2 separate regions of the Homo sapiens genome follow, and region 1 is linked to region 2. The links come from fine-mapping of genetic effects on gene expression. A gene starts in region 2. The other region holds a variant in brackets. All regions are shown on one strand. Distances are between the middles of the regions. Region 1 overlaps LPAR1 (lysophosphatidic acid receptor 1). Region 2 holds the start of MUSK (muscle associated receptor tyrosine kinase).

Region 1 (4,403 bases), 240 kb before region 2:
GATGCTGTCATCCTTTGAGGACAGGAACCAAAGGAAAAAAGCAATGAGGGAACTTCTTTTTGTCCCAAATCGCCTGCCAAAAATAAGTCAGTGATGCTTGTCAAGCTTGGACGTGTCTTGTTCATACAGTCTGGTAATAGCCAGCTTTCTTGTGGAAAAATATAGCAGGCACCCATTGAACTTCTTAGATGTTCTCTCCTCTTTGAGCATGTAACCTTTCATCTACATTCTACAAAATAGCCACTTTGATCTTCCTACTCAACAATTTAAATGGATCCCCACTGCCTAAGAAGGAAAGCAGAAATCTCTTACCCTAATGTTCTCGTCCTTCCAAAATCACATTGCAGCCTGTCCTTTAGTCTTATTTTCCATAACTCCACTTCACTTGGTTTGTTCCATTCAGAATGTGCTTTTTGTTTGTGGGCATACTTAATTAGGCTTATCTGCTGGTCTACTCTGATTATTACATAGTTTTGTAATATCTAAAGCTAAAAATGGATATATATATATATACTTATTAAAATGAACTTGATACACATGTGTGTGTACATATACATATATATATAAATACCTTTCATCAATACTTTTGCAAAACTTTCATTTAGAGACTTTTAGAAACAAATTGTGTGTATGTATATTATGACAGGTTGGCACTGATTTTAATTTCTTTTAGGATAATGAACCTTTCTGATTTGGCTGACTTGTAGTAGTGGTAAATACTACCTGTTGGAAACCTGTATTTAATCTAACAGATGCTCTAAAAGTCTGTACTTTCTATGCAGCATGGTCTGGCAGAAAAACACTTTTGGAGTCAGACAGCTCAACGCCTCAGTTATGTAAACAAGAGGTATCTACGTAGATACATAGCTAGATTCCTAGATAGATGGTATCTATTATATCCCAGATGGTTTTCTAGGTCAGGGAATATACTGGAAGATCTGGATTTGAATACAGACTTCAGTTTGAATGGAGCTTGACAAGTCAATTACTTTCAAGTTTAAGTTCCTCCTCTGGGAAATAGCACAAATAGCACACATGACACCACTTCATAGGATGTGCTAAAGAGTAACTGGCTTAATGCTGTTAACCTCCCAACCTTGTTCGTATGACAGTGCTTTCTGAGGCTGAAAATCTGATCTTCCCAGGTTTGACCAGTTGCTCTGTTTAGCTAAGGTCAGCCTGTTTATTATTTGGGACAGTCCCAAGAGAGGCAAGATTAGCATCCTTTGAACTGAAAGGAACCCTTCTCATCTGGAGGGTGAAGAAGGAAGAACAGAATGTCCTGGTGGCATTTAGAATGGAATCTCTAGCCCTTCTCCTTGGACACTGTTTGCGTCATGAAAAAAACTGTAATATGGAGACGCTGTCTCCAGCAAGAAATTTATGGCTATATTTCAATAGTTTGTTCAAATTTAGACCATGCCAGCTTCTATAGTTGATGAAAGCCTGAATATCCAAACACTATCTCCATTAATAAAATCTCAATGTTCCCAGAATGACGAATGTCTGAAAACGGGTTTTATTGTGAAAGGAGAAGCTCATTTGGTGTTTCCTCTTCTCTCTTTGCTTTTAGAAGAAAAAAATGAGAAAACTCTGTAGTCAGCCAAAAGGTCTTTGCCCCCTACTAATTCTTTTTTTAAAACTGTCATGAGAAGATAAGAGTTTTAAAGTTTTGTATTCTATCTCTGGGTCAGGGATCAAATATTTGCATTTGTAAAGAAATCAGAATTGTCTTTGAGAGGTGGAGATTCCTGGCAATGTTCAAGCTCACAAGTTGCACAATTCTGTAATGTGAAGTACTTCTAGTCACCTCGATGATGGAGAGGGTCACAGCAAAGAGATCTGGCCACATGGGTGGTCAAAAGTAGGATGTGCTTAGAAAGAAGTTGTTTTTCTTTCCATTTTCTATTATTAAGTATTTAAAAACTGTGATGTAGTCACA[C/T]TGTTTCTGCATTGATACTGTGCTTTCCTTTCTCCCTCCCACAGCCCTCAGTAACCCAGACGTTTATTCTTCTATCTACCTACCTTCACTTCCTATCACCCAAGGGTTTCTGCCTTTTAGGTTTTCTTTAGACTGAGATACTGTCTCCCTAGCCTTTCTGCTTTCCGGCTGGCCGTTAAAACAATCACCCAGCCCTTTTCTGTATTATAAGTGTTAATTCTGATCTCAGTTGGGAAATAGGCATATGGGAAAGATACAGGCATACCTTGGAGATATTGCAGATTTGGTTCCAGACCACTGCAATAGAGCAAATATTGCAATAAAGTGAGTCACACAAATTTTTTGGTTTCCTGGTTCATATGATAGTTATGTTTGTAATATAGTCTATTAAATGTGCAATAGTAGTATGTCTTAAAAAAGTATGTGCATACCTTAATTTAAAAACAGCTTATTTCTTTAAAAATGCTAACAGTCATCTGAGCCTTAAGTCATAATCTTTTGAAAATATTTTTTCTTAAATTAAAAAAATTAAAGTATCTTAAGTCTGCTTCTTAATTTTTTTTTCAAATCCTCCACTATTTTTTTAGATAGGATCTTCCTCTGTCACCCAGGCTGGAGTGCAGTGGCACAGTCTTGGTGCATTGTAGCCTCTACTTCCCAGGCTGAAGCAATCCTCCCACCTCAGCCTCCCAAGTAGCTGGGCCACAGGTGTGAACCACCATGCCTGGCTTTTGTATTTTGGGTAGAAATGACATCTCGCTATGTTGCCCAGGCTTGTCTCAAACTCCTGGGCTCAAGCAATCCACCTGCCTTGGTCTCTCAAAGTGCTGGGATTATAGGCGTGCACCACCATGCCCTGCACAGGTCATGATCTTTTTGCTGGTGGAAGGTCTGGCCTTGATGTTGATGGTTGCTGGCTGATGACAGTGGTGGTTGCTGAAGATTGGGGTGGCTGTGGCAATTTCTTAAAATGAGACAGTAATGAAGTTTGCCACGTTGATCGATTCTTCCTTTCACAAAAGATTTTTCAGTAGCATGTGATACTGTTTGATAGCATTTTACCTACAGTAAAACTTCTTTCAAAATCTGAGTCAATCCTCTCAAACCCTAATGCTGCTTTATCAACTAAGTTGATGGAATATTTTCAATCCTTTGTTGTCATTTCAACACTGACAACCAGAATATATTCTATCTCCAGAGACCACTTTCTTTGCTCCTCCATAAGAAGCAACTCTTCATCCATTAAAGTTTTATCATGAGATTGTAGCAATTTAGCTACATCTTCAGGTGCCACTTCTGACTCTTTCTCTTGCTCTTTCTCCCAAATCTGCAGCAACTTCCTCCACTGAAGTCTTGAACCCTTCAAAGTCATCCATGAGGGTTGGAATGAACTTCTTATAAACTCCTATTAATGTTGATATTTTGGCCTCCTACTATGAATCATGGATGTTCTTAATGGCATCTAGAATGGTGAATTCTTTCCAGAAAGTTTTCAACTAACTTTGCCAAGATCCATCAGAGAAATCACTATCTATGGCAGCTCTAGCTTTACAAAATATACTTATTAAATAAGACTTGAAAGTCAAAATTACTCCTTGATCCATGGGCTGCAGAATGGATATTGGGTTAGCAGTCATGAACACAACATTAATATCCCTGTACATGTCCATCAGAGCTCTTAGGCGACTAGGTACATTGTCAATGAGCAGTAATATTTTGAAAGGAATCTTTGTTTCTTAGCAGGTCTCAACAATGGGCTTAAAATATTCAGTAAGCCATGATATAAACAGATGTGTTATCCAAGCTTTGTTGTTCCATTTATAGACTACAGGCAGAGTAGATCTAGTATAATTCTTAAGGGCTGTAGGATTTTTGGAATGGTAAATGAGCACTGGCTTCTGCTTAAAGACACACCAGCCGCTTTATCCCCTAACAAGAGAGTCAGCCTACCCTTTGAAGCTTAGAAGCCAGGCATTCACTTTTCCTCTCCAGCTATGAAAGTCTTAGGTGGAATTTTCTCTCTGCACTTATTGGTCAGTTATGTTGTGAAACTAACCTGCTCTAAAAATAACATTTGGGCCAGATGTGGTGGCTCATGCCTATAATCCTAGCACTTTGGGAAGCCGAGGCAGGTGGATAGCTTGAGCTTAGGAGTTTGAGACCAGCCTGGGCAATATGATGAAACCCTGTCTCTCCAAAAAATGCAAAAAATTAGCCGAGCATGGTGGCAGGCACCTGTAGTCCCAGCTACTCGGGAGGCTGAGGTGGGAGGATCACTTTTGAGCCCAGGAAACAGAGGTCATAGTGAGCCGAGATCACACCACTGCACTCTAGTCAGGGCAACAGAGCCAGACCCTCTCTCTAAATAAATAAATAAATAAATAAATAAATAAATACTTTATTTAATAAATGAAGCAAAACAAAAAGAACACTGATCACAGATCACCATAACAGATATAAT
Region 2 (4,403 bases):
TGGGCCATTTTTATTAGTTTCAGTAGTATAATGGCTGGCGCAGTGGCTCATGCCTGTAATCCCAGCACTTTGGGAGGCCGAGGCAGGCAGATCACGAGGTCAAGAGATGGAGACCATCTTGGCCAACATGGTGAAACCCTGTCTCTACTAAAAATATAAAAATTAGCCGAGTGTGGTGGCTTGCACCTGTAGTCCCAGGTATTTGCGAGTCTGAGGCAGGAGTATAGCTTGAACCTGGGAGGAGGAGGTTGCAGTGAGCTGAGATCACACCACTGCACTGCAGCCTGGCAACAGAACGAGACTCTGTCTCAAATAATAATAATAATAATGAAAATAATAAAATTTTATTGTGGTTCTTTTCTACCAATGTATTCCTCACCCTTCAACATTTAAAATTTTAAGGATTATGCTTTCATGATATTAGTTATTCTCAGAACTGCTGTATGTAGTAAATAAATGTTTGTTCTCCTAGACATGGTATTTTGGCTAAGAGTGATGTTAAACTCATACTAATTTAGATTTTACAGTACAATAGACTGAGAAAAAATTGCTTAAATTTTTTGATTTTAAAACCTAATTCTAGTAGTAAATAAATTATAAGAAATGAAATTGGGTGAATGATCTGGTTAGTTTATTTAAAAGTCAGGGTGTTTGGCTTTGTTATCTCTATGCCACTATATTTCAATATTTTCAAAATAGAGATAGTGTGCATTTGAATTAAGGGCTTTATTTGTAAAGTTTGGAAATGAAAATCAATTCTTTCTAGAATATAAATTAAGACTTATTCAGATAGAGAGATTTTGGGGGTTTTGTGTGTGTGTACAACAAATCCTTATTTGAATCATCAAAATCAATTGTCCTGCTCTTTATAAGACTGTATTTTAGTATTTAACCCTATCATTTTTATGTAACTGCGTGGTTTAGAAATATACAAATAATACTTAAGACAACCCATACGTTCAAACATCCAGGTGGGGCCTTACCGGACATCCGTTGTTTGATCAGGAAGTATTAAAATAATCTGAAGCCAATGTTAAGTCTTTCTGACTATTATTAGCTGTTTGAAAAGATCTAGAGTCTCTTTTATCTGTAGATGCCTTAAAGTATTCATTAGAAATTAAATGTTTAAATACATTTGAAGATACCATTATACTCAAGTAAAATGGAAAAAGAGAAGCAACAAAATGAAACAAAAAAATCTGTGAAATCAGATTGTTTGTGAAGAAACCCGCATCTTATTTGCATGTGAACTTTGACCTTATGGCTCCAGAATTTTTAGTGAACCAGAAAATCTAAAGATACATTTTGCATCTATATACAGATACCACCTTCATTTATCTACACAATACAAACTGTTTCAGTGCTTTGATTAATATAAAGGGAAAATGATTAATTTGAACATGTCCTGAAGCAAAAATCTCTTTTTACTCTATGGTATAACATTAAATTTGAAAACTCTTGTATTGATACCACTCGATCTGCTTTCTCATGTCTTTTTAAAAAAAGATTTCAGTGATACCCTTAGTCACTTTGCAAATCACAGACTTTCCAGTCTTTCTGATTTCAAATACGCTAGTCCCAGTTTCATAATACACTGGCCAGAAACTATATCACTGGACATTCTTGCTACTGCAACAGGTGTTTGTCAGTTTCTTAAGTTGCTTTCCTTTCCCCTGAGGTGGTGTTATTTCCGGTACATTCCAAAGGCTCTGAAAAAAACTTTTGCAGTCTCTTGCCAAGCCAAATCATGACTCCAGCCTCAAAGTTATTTAAAATCCATTGTCTTCCGGGTTTGTTACACAGGCAAATTGTGTACGTCTTTCTGTATTTCCAATTTTTAGCAACTAAAATATTTATTAAGAGTTTGGCAAAGCTAAAACTGAAAATAAAAGTGATTTTTATTCAGAAGCAAATGCTCTGGATGTCTGAGAATGGGGTTGATTCTATTCCTGGCAAACCTGATGCGAAAAGGTTGTCATCATCCACTTAGACCACCCTGAAATTTGACATTCGCATAAACAAAATAGACCTTGATAACTTGCAGTGTACATGCTTATGTTTTGCCCTAGAAGTCAGAGCTCTGCATGCACTATGTGGCTAAGCCTTTTATTGCAGAACTTCGGAGTAAAATATTGGTAGAGAGACCATCAACCAATTGCTTATGTATATAATTTCCTCCCTCATCATACATTTCACCCTTACTTCTTCAAGTAAAACCCAAGCCCACCATACTATAAATCAGTCTTGGTCATATCTCATATACACACACTTTACAACCATGACAAGACAACAAGAAGACACGATTGCTCAAACCAACCTTTTGGAAGTTTCTCAGTTCCGCTGAAGGCAACCAGAGTAAGAATATGTACCAGTGGAATGTTGACGAGCTCTCTCATGATTAATCCAGGCTCACGCAGGACGAAGTTCCTTCTGGACAACGCAAGGAAAATGGCTCCACAGTTTACATTTTAAAGCATACTTTGTTGCAAAAGGGTTGTCTGCTAATGACTGTTTGTGTCAGCAGCTCCACAGGCTCTAAGTATAATCAGGAATTCTCAGACTTGGCTGCAATGATGGACACAGCCAGCTGGTGAGCATCCACGTAGGCCAGTAATGCAAGTGTAGGGCTGGAGGAACAAGGGCAAGAAAATCCCTTTAGAATCCCTTTTAAGACAGTGGCAGAAGGACAATACCAGATGCCTTTTGCAACCATCGCTGTATTCCCAGAGGTATAGGTGTCCTGACCTTCGAATTCAGCACCCCACCTCTCCCGGACTCAAACCAGAAATCTGGGTCTATTCAGTCTTCAGTCCTCCCCATCTCTCACCCCACCCCCACTCCCACATTCAGCCCATTCCAATTCCTACAGATTTTATCAACCAAATAGTCCTTGTACCTTCTCTCTGTCTTGGGTCTTAACCATTCTATATCTTTTTTCAGATAGTCCCTCCTGCTCAAAAGCCTTTAGGGGCTCATCATCACATAAAAATATATTTAAACCTGCCTAATCTGCCTAATATGACAGGCTTTACTGGAATCTGCATGCTTTGTTGTATGTTAGTATTGTCTTTTACGATCCTGTTTTTGTTTTTTGTTTTTTTTTTTTTTCAGAGTCAGGGTCTTGCTCTGTTGCCCAGGCTGGAGTGCAATGGGGTAATCATAGCTCACTGCAACCTCAGCCTCCTGGACTCAAGTGATCCTTTCAGAGTAGCTAGGACTACAGGCACTGCCACTACAGCAGGCTAATTTATTTTTATTTTTTGGAGAGATGTGGTCAGGCTATGTTACCCAGGCTGGTCTCAAACTGCTGGCCTCAAATGATGATTCCACCTCGGCCTCTCAAAGTGCTGGGAATGCAGGCGTGAGCTACTGTGCCCAGCCTCATTCAGCTTCCTTTATTCAACAACCTGCTGATGGTTCCCTGTATACAGCTTTCCTACCTCCATGAATTGCTCATACTGTTTGCTTCTCTTGGAATACTACTCCCCTCCTTTCCACTCAGTTCACACATCTCTCAGCTTGATCATCCTCTCCTCCTGGGAGAAAAATTCCATATCTTCCCAAAGCTGTGTTACGTTTGTCTTCTCTGGGTTTCCATAATATACTGTGCATATCTCTACCATTGCAATGACCATATTGTTTTGATTTTTTCCCCTTTGTGTTGGTGTCTTCTTCATTCTTTGGCCTCGTGAGTTCATTTATAGAACTTTAGAGTCAGGTAGTGTGATGCCGCCAGCTTTGTTCTTTTTGCTTAGGATTGCCTTGGCTATATGGGCTCTTTTTTGGTTCCATATGAAATTTAAAGTAGTTTTTTCTAATTCTGTGAAGAAAGTCAATGGTAGCTTGATGGGGATAGCATTGAATCTATAAATTACCTTGGGCAGTACAGCCATTTTCACAATATTGATTCTTCCTATCATGAGCATGGAATGTTTTTCCATTTATTTGTGTCCTCTTTTATTCCCTTGAGCAGTGGTTTGTAGTTCTCCTTGAAGAGGTCCTTCATATCCCTTGTAAGTTGGATTCCTAGGTATTTTATTCTCTTTGTAGCAATTGTGAATGGGAGTTCACTCATGATTTGGCTCTCTGTTTGTCTGTTATTGGTATATAGGAATCTTGTGATCTTTGCACATTGATTTTGTATCCTGGGACTTTGCTGAAGTTGCTTATCAGCTTAAGGAGATTTGGGGCTGAGATGATGGGGTTTTCTAAATATACAATCATGTCATCTGCAAACAGAGACAATTTGACTTTCTCTCTTCCTATTTGAATACGCTTTATTTCTTTCTCTTGCCTGATTGCCCTGGCCAGAACTTCCAATAGTAGGTTGAATACGAGTGGTGAGAGAGGGCATCCTTGTCTCGTGCCAGTTTTCAAAGGGAATACTTCCAGCTTTTTCTCAT

What was found. PIP is the estimated chance that this variant, and not a neighbour inherited with it, causes the effect. A credible set is the group of variants that fine-mapping cannot tell apart.
Region 1: its variant is the best candidate, but not a certain one, in a credible set for the expression of MUSK in tibial artery (GTEx, PIP 0.62).

What each region holds. Positions count from the first base shown.
Region 1 is chr9:110,909,665-110,914,067 of GRCh38, reverse strand. The region is part of intron 5 of LPAR1 (lysophosphatidic acid receptor 1); the gene reads left to right. Among named protein-coding and RNA genes, the nearest start is that of LPAR1, 130 kb to the left of the region's middle. The variant C/T (reference allele first, on the strand shown) is at 1,943.
Region 2 is chr9:110,666,898-110,671,300 of GRCh38, reverse strand. MUSK (muscle associated receptor tyrosine kinase) reads right to left here and starts at 2,510. Exons shown (of 15, transcript NM_005592.4): 1 at 2,318-2,510. The coding sequence starts at 2,396.